Homo sapiens: one gene and its partner. The protein of the gene in region 1 purifies or fractionates together with the protein of each later gene. This does not show direct contact. Each region holds a gene or a part of one and is shown in the gene's direction. Other genes may lie near its edges.

Region 1 (5,472 bases):
AAATTATGGGAATTCAGTTTTATGCAGAGAAGTGAAATAATGATATCTTTCTCATTTTCATCACATATAAAATGAGAATAATGGTCATTGTGGTGAACATTCTGTAAAGCAAAAATAAAATTCTAAGGCCGCCCCCCACAACCATCTGAATGGACTTCCTCCTCAGCCAGGGCTCTTTCAAAATTAAACCCGAGTGACCGTTTCAGGCCATGATGGGAAGTAGGGGTTGAACGTGCCTCATTATACCTCTCTACCGTTAACATCAACACAGACTTTAAGTTTGATAAGAAACATTTTACAACCCATTCTCTCTGAAGCCTAGGATTTGAAGGTTTCCTCTGCAAATAAGAACTTGGGTCTCCACAATCCTTTATCTTAACCCAGACATTCCTTTCTATTGATTTCAGGTCTTTAGAGAAACTCAACCAATTGTCAACCAGAAAAATTTAAAATCTACCTATAAGCTGGAAGCCCCCCACCGCCCCACTTCGAGTTGTCCCGCCTTTCTGTTGTCCCACAAACCAATGTCTTTCTCTCTTTCCCCCTCCCCTCTCTTCCCTTCCTCCTTTCCTCTTTTCTTTTCTTTCTTTCTTTTCTCCCTTTCTTTCTTTCTTTCTTTCTTCCTTCCTTTCTTTCTTTTCTTTCTCTTAGGAATAACGCTCAAAATCCTAAGGGAAATTGAACACTCGAACAAAGGATTATTAGCAAAGCAATTTTACTTCTGCTCAGAGGGGTGTCTGCTTGGCCAGTCGCCATGAGAGCACACCTGAACAAAGGGGCACGAGAGCCTTTATTCCTGACGCAAGTCCTGCCCCTGTACCCTTTCCCCATTGGCCGGGGTCGGGTCATACAATCTGAACTAATCCCGGTTGGCTAAACATTTGATTTTTTTAGGTAATGTGGGCACGTAAAAGAAAGTGGAGAGGAAAGGGGAAGGGGTGCCTGTAATGAACTAGAAAGTTAGTCCTCTTTCCAAATAATGAAAGGAATGTGAGCTGGTACTGATAACGTCTGGTACTGATAACGTCTTGTACTGTGGCGTGCCTCGGCATCTAACGAAGGCAAAAAGGAGAAAAAGGAAAACAAAAGTGTGTGTGGGGGGGAGTACTATGAATTAAAGAATAAAAGATTGATCTAATTATTTGAAGAGAAACCTCATCATATCCCAGATTTCTTTCTTTCTTTCTTTCTTTTTTTTTTTTTTGAGACGGAGTTTCGCTCTTGTACCCCAGGCAATGGGGCGCGATCTCGGCCCACTGCAATCTCCGCCTCCCGGGTTCAAACGATTCTCCTGCCTCAGGCTCCCGAGTAGCTGGGATTACAGGCACCCACCACTACTCCCGGCTAATTTTTGTATTTTTAGTAAAGATGGGGTTTCACCATGTTGGCCAGGCTGGTCTCAAATTCCTGACCTCAGCTGATCCACCCGCCCAGGCCTCCCAAAGTGCTGGGATTACAGGCATGAGCCACCAGGCCCGGCCCAACCAGTGTATTTCTTGAATGAACTGAAGTCTCATATCTCCCTAAAATATGTAAAACCAAGCTGTACCGGACCACCTTGGGCACATGTTCTCAGGACCTCCTGAGGGCTGTGTCAAGGGCCATGGTCACTCATATTTGGCTCAGAATAAGTCTCTTCAAATATTTTACAGAGTTGGACTCTTTTCGTTGACAATTCAATGACGCTTCAAGCGTTTTTGGCAGCTCTCATCAGTGGGATCCGCATTAATAGTGAAACGGCATCATGGCGCTTCCCGCAGTTCGGGATTGTTTTGAACTTTCATCTAGAGCGTATTGTGGGTGGGGAAGTTGTGTTTGCTGAGTAGATTGTGACACTGCTGGCTTGGGTCACTCGAGGTCAGGGATGAGAGACTTTTTTTCCTAGAATTGGTAAGACAGGAAATCAATCAGAGGCAGAGCGACGCCTCTGGCTCTGGTCTAGTGGTGCAGCGTCTCTAGCCCTCGCCCCGCCCACCGTCCCCGCGAGGCGTCCACTCGCCGAGCCCCGCCCTCACCCAGCACCCACCCCGCTCCTCGCGCCCTCCCCGCCTGTTCCCGCCCTGTGCTGAGGCTGCGCAGTCGGTGCCATCTTCTACGCCCCTGGGAGCGTTGTGGCTGCTGTTTCCTTCGGCTTTCCTCCTCCTGCTCCACCATGTGGAGCCGACGGCAGGGCCGCCTCAGGCCCACGGTCTGCGGGGTGGAGGAGCTACGGCGCCGCCGGCGGGAGCGGGAGGCAGGTGTGGGCGGCCGAGGGAGCGCGGGGGTATATGGCGGTCGGGGATAAGTTGAGACCCCAGGCTCGGAGCCGCGGGTTCTGGGTTGTGGTCGTCCTTCCCACGCTCAGCCGGCTCCTCTGCCCCCAGCACTGCGGAAGGCGCGGAGGGAGCAGCAGCTGGTCAGCAAGAGGCTGCTGAGAAACGACGCCCCAGAGGAAGCTGGAGAGGGATGTGTGGCTGCGATCCTCGGGGAAACCGAGGTGAGGGGGCAAGGTAGGGTGCGCTGGAGTCCACGCCCGCTGGCGCCAGACTCCCGGGAGTACTCGAGGTCTGCCCCAAACCTGAACGCAATCCACTCTACACTTCCACGCATCCAGTGGGTCAAGCCAGAAACAGGGGAATCATCCTGCACAACTCTTTGACCCACAACCCCATATCGATCCATCATCAAGTCCTAGTTGTTTACCTCCTGAAGAGCTTTGGAGTCTTTACATGCCTCACCATCGAAGCTGCCACCACCACCTCCTCTCTGGATACTACTGCAGTCTCCTAAAAGGTCACCCTGCATCTATGCTTGTCACCGTCACTACGTCCTTTAAAAACACGTGGAGACCAAAATCTTTCCTGTGCCTTGCAAAGCATAGCATGGTCTAGCCTCTTCCTAACTCAAATTTTATCAGTTTTCTCATCCTACCCACCGTCCTCTTTTTAGTTCCTGCAACGATATATCGGATTTGTGTCTCAAGCCCTTGGCATTCGCTACGTCTAACGTTCGTTTCTTTTGGTATTCTGTCTTGAGAGCCTATTTTTTTTCTTTTCTTTTCTTTTTTTTTTTTTGAGACTCTCGCTCTGTCGCCAGGCTGGAGTGCAGTGGCATGATCTCGGCTCACTGCAACATCCGCCTCCCGGGTTCAAGCGATTCTCCTGCCTCAGCCTCCCGAGTAGCAGGGATTACAGGCGCGCGCCACCACTAATTTTTGTATTTTAAGTAGAGGCGGGGTTTCATCATGTTTGTCAGGCTGGTCTGGAACACCTGGCCTCATGATCCACCCGCCTTGGCCTCCCAAAGTGCTGGGATTACAGGCGTGAGCCACTGTGCCCGGCCACCTACTTGTTTCTTGTAGAATATTAATCATTATCTAATGGTTTGTCTATTGTTATTTCTCCAACTAGACTTTAATTGCAGGAAAACCTAGATCCTGTGTTGTCATTGAAAACCCGGTTGCCTGCACATTATCTGGCATATAGTTAAGTACTCAGTGTTTATTGAATGAGTGAATGAAAGGATTTATTCAGTAAGCATTGAGTATCCCCTGTATTTGTATTATGTTTACGTACATAGTTTACCGTACATACCATGTTGACATATATATTATCAACTTATTCCTAGGTCATACTATTCCATTGTATGCTTACTTTATGCCAGGACACTGTGCTGGTCACTGAGGTACACAAAGATGAAAGGATAGAGTCCTTTTCTTTGAGGTGCTCACAGCCCGGTGAAGAAGACAGATGTCACAAGGGAAGGAAACATGAGGAACAAGAGAAACTCCTAAGTCTCTCAAAAAGAGCTAACTTCCCAGAGGAAATGAGGAGCAGAAACCTGAAGAGAGTGGGAAGCTGGAGAGGGTATCCAGGCAGAAGAAATAGCATGTGCAAAAGCTCGGAAATGTAAAAAAAAGAAAAAGAAAAAGCTCATGTTAGGCTGGTTGTTGTTAGAGTGTAGGTTGCATGGGGAGAATGGCTAGAGGAGTAGGTTTTGCCAGGCTGAGAGGTTTAAATATCCTTGAAAGAACCCTGTATGAAGGCAGGATAGATATTGTTATTCTCATTTTCAGGTGAGGAAACTTAGGTTCAGGTCCCATATGGAGTAAGTGGCAGGTATGGTATTAGAACTCAGTTCTGATTCTCTGTCCACTCCACTGCAAGGTAGATGCTTATTAGTTGCATTAGTGTGAATGACAAGTTCTGAAGGTGTGATATTGGAAGGCTCACAGGTGAAGTGGGCAGAGAGAGACTTAGGACTTGCTTTCTGTGAACCGTGTGTTCTCCTTTCCCTGCCCTGAACTCCAGGTGCAGCAGTTCCTGCGGCAAGCCCAGCGGGGGACAGAGGAAAAGGAGAGAGAGGGGGCTCTGGTCAGCCTTCGTCGAGGCTTGCAGCACCCTGAAACACAGCAAACCTTCATCCGGTCAGTGTGGATGGTGTGGTGGAGGGAGGAGTTGGGGCTCTGAGGGATGGACCACAAGCTAAGCAGGGCTCTGGTACTCACTCACATAGGCTGGAGGGCAGCATGCGGACCCTGGTCGGGCTCCTGACCAGCAACCAGGCCCTGCTGCAGCTTGAGGCGGCTCGGTGCCTGCATGAGCTCTCTCACTCCGAGCAGTCCACTGTTGCTGAGGCCTGCCTGCCAGCCACTTCTTACCTCCTCACCTACCTCTCCAGTCACAGCTCAGACTTCATAGTAAGCCCTGTCCCTTCCTATCTTGTTCTTGGTTTAGATTTTAAAATTGTGCTTTTGGGACCAGTTTGAGCTGGCAGGTAGGAGGAAGAAAACATGTTTGCCCTTATGCCTACAGCCATGGCTACACCCATCATCTCCCCACCCTCTTGTGAGCCGCAAGGATAGCTGCTCCAGCGTCCCCATCACCTCCCCTCCCCATCTCCCCACACGCAGCCTGGCATGAAACAGGCCAAGCCCAGTGCTTTTGTTGCCTGTTCTCAGGAGCTGTGTCTGTATACACTGGGTAACCTGATCGTGGAGAGTGAGGCTGTGAGAAGGCAGCTCCTGCCACAGGGCATTGTTCCAGCCTTGGCTGCCTGCATCCAGGTGACTCCTTTCTTCCTCCCTGGGCAACCCTTCCTTTGCTCCTCCCCACATGCTCCATCTACTTTGGTTAGGTAGCTCCAGCCTCTGCCCTGTGCCAAGGGGCTGAAAGTCTCTGAAGACCTGATGACCCAGCTTCCAGTCAGATCCTTACCCTGTCTACTTCCAGTCCCCCCATGTGGCTGTGCTGGAAGCTCTCGGATATGCCTTGTCCCAGCTTCTACAGGCTGAGGAAGCTCCAGAGAAGATCATTCCGTGAGTAAAATTGTCTTTAGATGTGCAGCCAGAGGTGACCCACTCAGTAGTATAGCTCCCGGATGCCTGAATGATTTCCAAAGCTGTTGCACATTTTAAATTCATGTGTCTGGCTAGGAAGGGCTTTGGGTTTGGACACTTTCCCATCTGGGCAGGGCTTTGGGTTTGGACACTCT
Region 2 (4,095 bases), on another chromosome or scaffold:
AAGCTGGTCCTTCCATTTATTGAAGCTTCAATTAATTAGACTTCATCATGTTATAGCTAAATGGATGTGACTAGAAAGAGCAGCATACAGACATCTATGTGTAAACTGTTACTTGTTGGTTAACATTTATGTTTGAAATGGAAAATCAATAAAAGGGAACTTATATTAATTTATAAGCACATTAAGAAAAGAGGGGACACTATTTTTGATCCCAAGATAGCAACAAAACTAAAAACTTTTCCAAAGAAGCAAACGGGAACAGAGGTCAATAGGCTGTGACCTCTATTTTATGTTTAAAACGTTTGCACATCCACTAAGTGCACTGCAGAATCTTAAATGCAATTAAAATCAATGGGCATACAAGTTATAGAGTAGCTTGAGGAAGCACAAGTCAATCTTCATTAGCTATTGTAGCAAAGATTCCTTCCAAATCCATGGGAGCAGGTGCTGTTTATACTCCCTTCATTGACGCCCAGAACAATGGCATAGGGTGAGCATTGAATACTTATTTGCTACGCGCATGAATGAATGAAGCTACGCTGCGAAGGCAGACTGCGTGGCTGCTGGTCCCGTGGCTGCTGGCCCCGCAGCATGTCTGCCGCCTTTTCAGCAGGCTTGCTGCATCTCCTCATTCCCTCACCTTTCTGGCAGTAAGGAGTTCCCACGTTTGCCCCGCTTCAGTGTCGTGGACTGGCAAAATGCTGTCTCTAAACCCCTCCACGCCTCAGGTAATCCGCTCATTTCTCACACAGACGCAGCTGTTTCCGAGGAATGTCCGGCCGAGCCCGCAGGGTGCGGGCAGCGAGTATCCTGGGACCTTCAGGGGAGGAGGTGGCTCCCACACCCCAATACCGTACAGAGAGTCCGAAGAGTCCGGGCCCTTATTTTTCCAATTCTTGGTAAACAACAAACATGCTCGCCCTCGCCTCCCCGTGCAGACGCCTCAGGGCCAACTCGGGCTTCGCCAGGCACCGAGAGCAGACAGAAGACGCCAAATGGCTATCACCAGGAGAGAGGGCGAGGCAGCCGCGCGGCGTATAGCGCTCGCCCTTCCCGCGCGCTCGGTCGCCCGACGCCTCACGCGCGAGGTTGCCTTGGCAGTGGCTGGAGGGCAGGTGGGGGCGCGTGCGCGCAGAAGGGCGGGGGAGGGACCACCGCGCGCCAGCAGGTGGGCGCGTTCTCCCGCGCGCGTGCGCGCGTCGAAGCCCTATACATCACGTTCCCCGAGAGCAGCGTCCCCTCCCCGCCGGGAGCGCGCGCCTCCCATCCTCGCGCCGGGTCCTGCTCGGTCTCTCAGAGCCGCACACTCCGCGGAGCTCCTGCCACAGCCGTCGCCTTCGCGGCGGCTCTCCAGCCCCGCGCCTCAGCCTCGGCGCCGCATCACCGCGTCCCAGGCCTCCTTCCCTCCCTCTGCCACTCCCCCTCCCTTTCCCGCTCTTCTTGCCCACCCGGCCGGCAGAGAGAGCCTGGATACGAAGCAGGCGGGCTTCAGAGTGGGTTGGAAAAATGGAGGTGCCGCGCCTGGATCATGCCCTCAACAGCCCCACCAGCCCCTGTGAGGAGGTGATCAAAAACCTCAGCCTGGAGGCCATTCAGCTGTGCGACCGGGACGGTAAGAGCGGCCGGGACCGCGAGGAAAGGGACAGAGTTCGCGCCGAGGCGCCGGGGCCACTCTGGCTCCGCCGACGCCGCTCGCCAGGGCGGCAGGGTCTTTTGTTGTCCCCTCTGTGCAAATAAATGCAGATGTGGGTTACCCTCCGCCCACCGCCCTCCCCTCACCCCAGAAACAAAAGGACCCCGGGGCTCGCGCCTTGGCGCGGAAAGTAGCCGTCCACAACCGTGGCGCCCTTCGCCGCCTTCGCCCGCCTGGCCCGGACGAGGGCGACGTTCCCGCTCGCGGCTCCTGCCCCGACGAGGCGTTTCCGATCTTTGCCGCAGTCCGGATTTCCTGGGTCTCTGGGCACTGAAGGGGAAATGCCCTCGGGATGTTTCTAGCAACCCCCTTCCCCCAACACACACACACTAGTTGGCATTCTCTTCCAGAAACTTATCATTTTCTTTTTTAAACCTCCCATCCTCAGACTCCCCAAATTAACAAGTCTTTTTAGCCTCTTGGATTGGGATTAGGATGACAGTTTTTCAGTGAGGGCGCAGAAAAACAGTGCATTTCAGCACCAAGGACAGACACAATCTTCATGGTTCCTGGGCTCTGAGTCAGACTGTCGAAAATATTGGCCTAATATATGTGCTGTGATTCAGACTTTGTGGCGAGTACGTACCATTGCGTGTTGATATTATATCGTTTATTCTGTTGTTGAAGTTGGCAGGCTCCTGTGGAAGGAAATTGATTGAATACAGGTCTGAGCGTTGAAGACATAAGCTAGTGCTGTGTGCGGTGTGGTTAGTTACAGTGCTTCTGGGTTAGCTGGACTAGTTAGAGTCTGCTACTTTAGTAATGTGGTACAAAACTTCATTTGTAAAGAAATCATTTGATTAGTAATTGGTTGGCCGAATAATTGTAAAATTCTACATCTGACAAAGGAAACACAGTTCACATGTTGTTAAGAGGGCCCCAAATACTTTTGACTGTAAATGAAATTAATGTTTAACTGTATATAGAGGTAATGATTGTAAAACATGTCTTTAACCAAAGTTATGTACAGATACTAATACGCTCACAGTAAGGTCATAAAATTTATCAGCCTAATCCAAATAGGGAGCAGAGGTCTTGTTTCCAAAGTCATTTAAATGGTAATCACTTGGTTACGCATTGCTATTCAGCACGTTTATATCAAGCAAGCACCGAATTTGTTTATTACTAAATTTTATATTTATTAATATAAATTTATATTTAATAATTTTGAAACCAGAATTCAAACTTTTTGAAACCAAAACCACTTTAATTTCTGATACAGGTGTAGTATATGAATAAATAAATACGTTTGCAAAGACAGCTTGTATTTCCTTTATTCTTAGACTGTTTTAGTCACCATGGTAGTAAGTGCACATATTTATGGTATCTAAAAACATTTATCATTTTGGTATTCCATATGTAAGCTTGCATGATTATAGACTGTAAAGATTATTTTTAATAACGCATAGGAAGTCATTTGGATTTTAGTTTAGACTTTTATGAAATGACTTTTTGTAATGTAACCATTGCAAGTTGTAAATATTTTTATTTTCTTAGGGTTGAGAGAAACACAAGACTAATAAAAGTAGACTTCATTTTTATTTATTGCAATGATAAAGCAAAAGCTCATTCTTGTACTCAATGGAATTAGGCATTCATTGTTGCTCTTCAGAACCCAGTAATCTCAATACTTAAAACCGCATTTACCACGTGTTTCAAAGATATTAGGGAAAATTTAAACTTTTTAATGAAGTTCACAGAGTTAAGAGAGTGCAAAAAATAATGCTGTATTTACTGTGATCCCCTAGAGGAGTAGCTATTTTATTCTGGTATTATTTTTTAGTTGTTTCTTTTCAAATTAGGAATCCCACAAAATGAACAAATTATGTAACATTTAATTTTGGGGAGGGTGCTGGCACTAAGTAACATCTATGAAAATTACTATTTGCAGACTTCCAAGTAATTTACATAGACTAATTAAATAGGGTTTTATTTTATAAAATAGTATACACCAACAAATACAAAGAGCTAACTCTTCTACTAGAAGATGTATAAAATTTGGAAATACTTTGTTTAGAGATGTTGTTAAATGCTTAACTTATTTTGTTATCCTATCTTACATGTCAATTCCAAAAATATTAACTTGGTTGGCTTCAAAGGGATAATTTAGGGGGAATAATGTCGTTTGTTTTTAATAGAACAGCATATGAAATGTTGCATTAAATTTGTCAAACAGACCTTACTTAGCATCATTTTGTATTGAGAGATTTTCAGCTAGTTGCTTTTTACTCCCTTTGCTTCCCTCCTTTCACTTTCTTTCCACTCAAGTCTCGTTATTTTACTTCTGTAACTATGTAACATAGAAAAGGATGTGGCAGAATATGGGACAGAAGATCTATTTTGTGTTTAAGTACCTAATAAGAGCTATATTTCATAATTTATGATAGAATACATTTATTTTG

What was found.
Region 2: the proteins of TMCO6 (region 1) and PHYHIPL purify together in Homo sapiens (affinity purification with mass spectrometry; 3 studies listed by BioGRID and IntAct, with this or other methods). This does not show direct contact.

Annotation. Positions count from the first base shown.
Region 1 is NC_000005.10:140,637,376-140,642,847, forward strand, and holds the start of TMCO6 (transmembrane and coiled-coil domain-containing protein 6), read left to right. Parts: upstream 1-2,075; 5' UTR 2,076-2,152; coding exon 2,153-2,237; intron 2,238-2,363; coding exon 2,364-2,476; exon of another isoform or gene 2,477-2,489; intron 2,490-4,289; coding exon 4,290-4,405; intron 4,406-4,494; coding exon 4,495-4,678; intron 4,679-4,939; coding exon 4,940-5,044; intron 5,045-5,115; exon of another isoform or gene 5,116-5,210; coding exon 5,211-5,296; intron 5,297-5,472.
Region 2 is NC_000010.11:59,175,348-59,179,442, forward strand, and holds the start of PHYHIPL (phytanoyl-CoA hydroxylase-interacting protein-like), read left to right. Parts: upstream 1-1,295; 5' UTR 1,296-1,506; coding exon 1,507-1,612; intron 1,613-1,816; exon of another isoform or gene 1,817-2,243; coding exon of another isoform or gene 2,244-2,271; intron 2,272-4,095. UniProt on the Homo sapiens protein: May play a role in the development of the central system.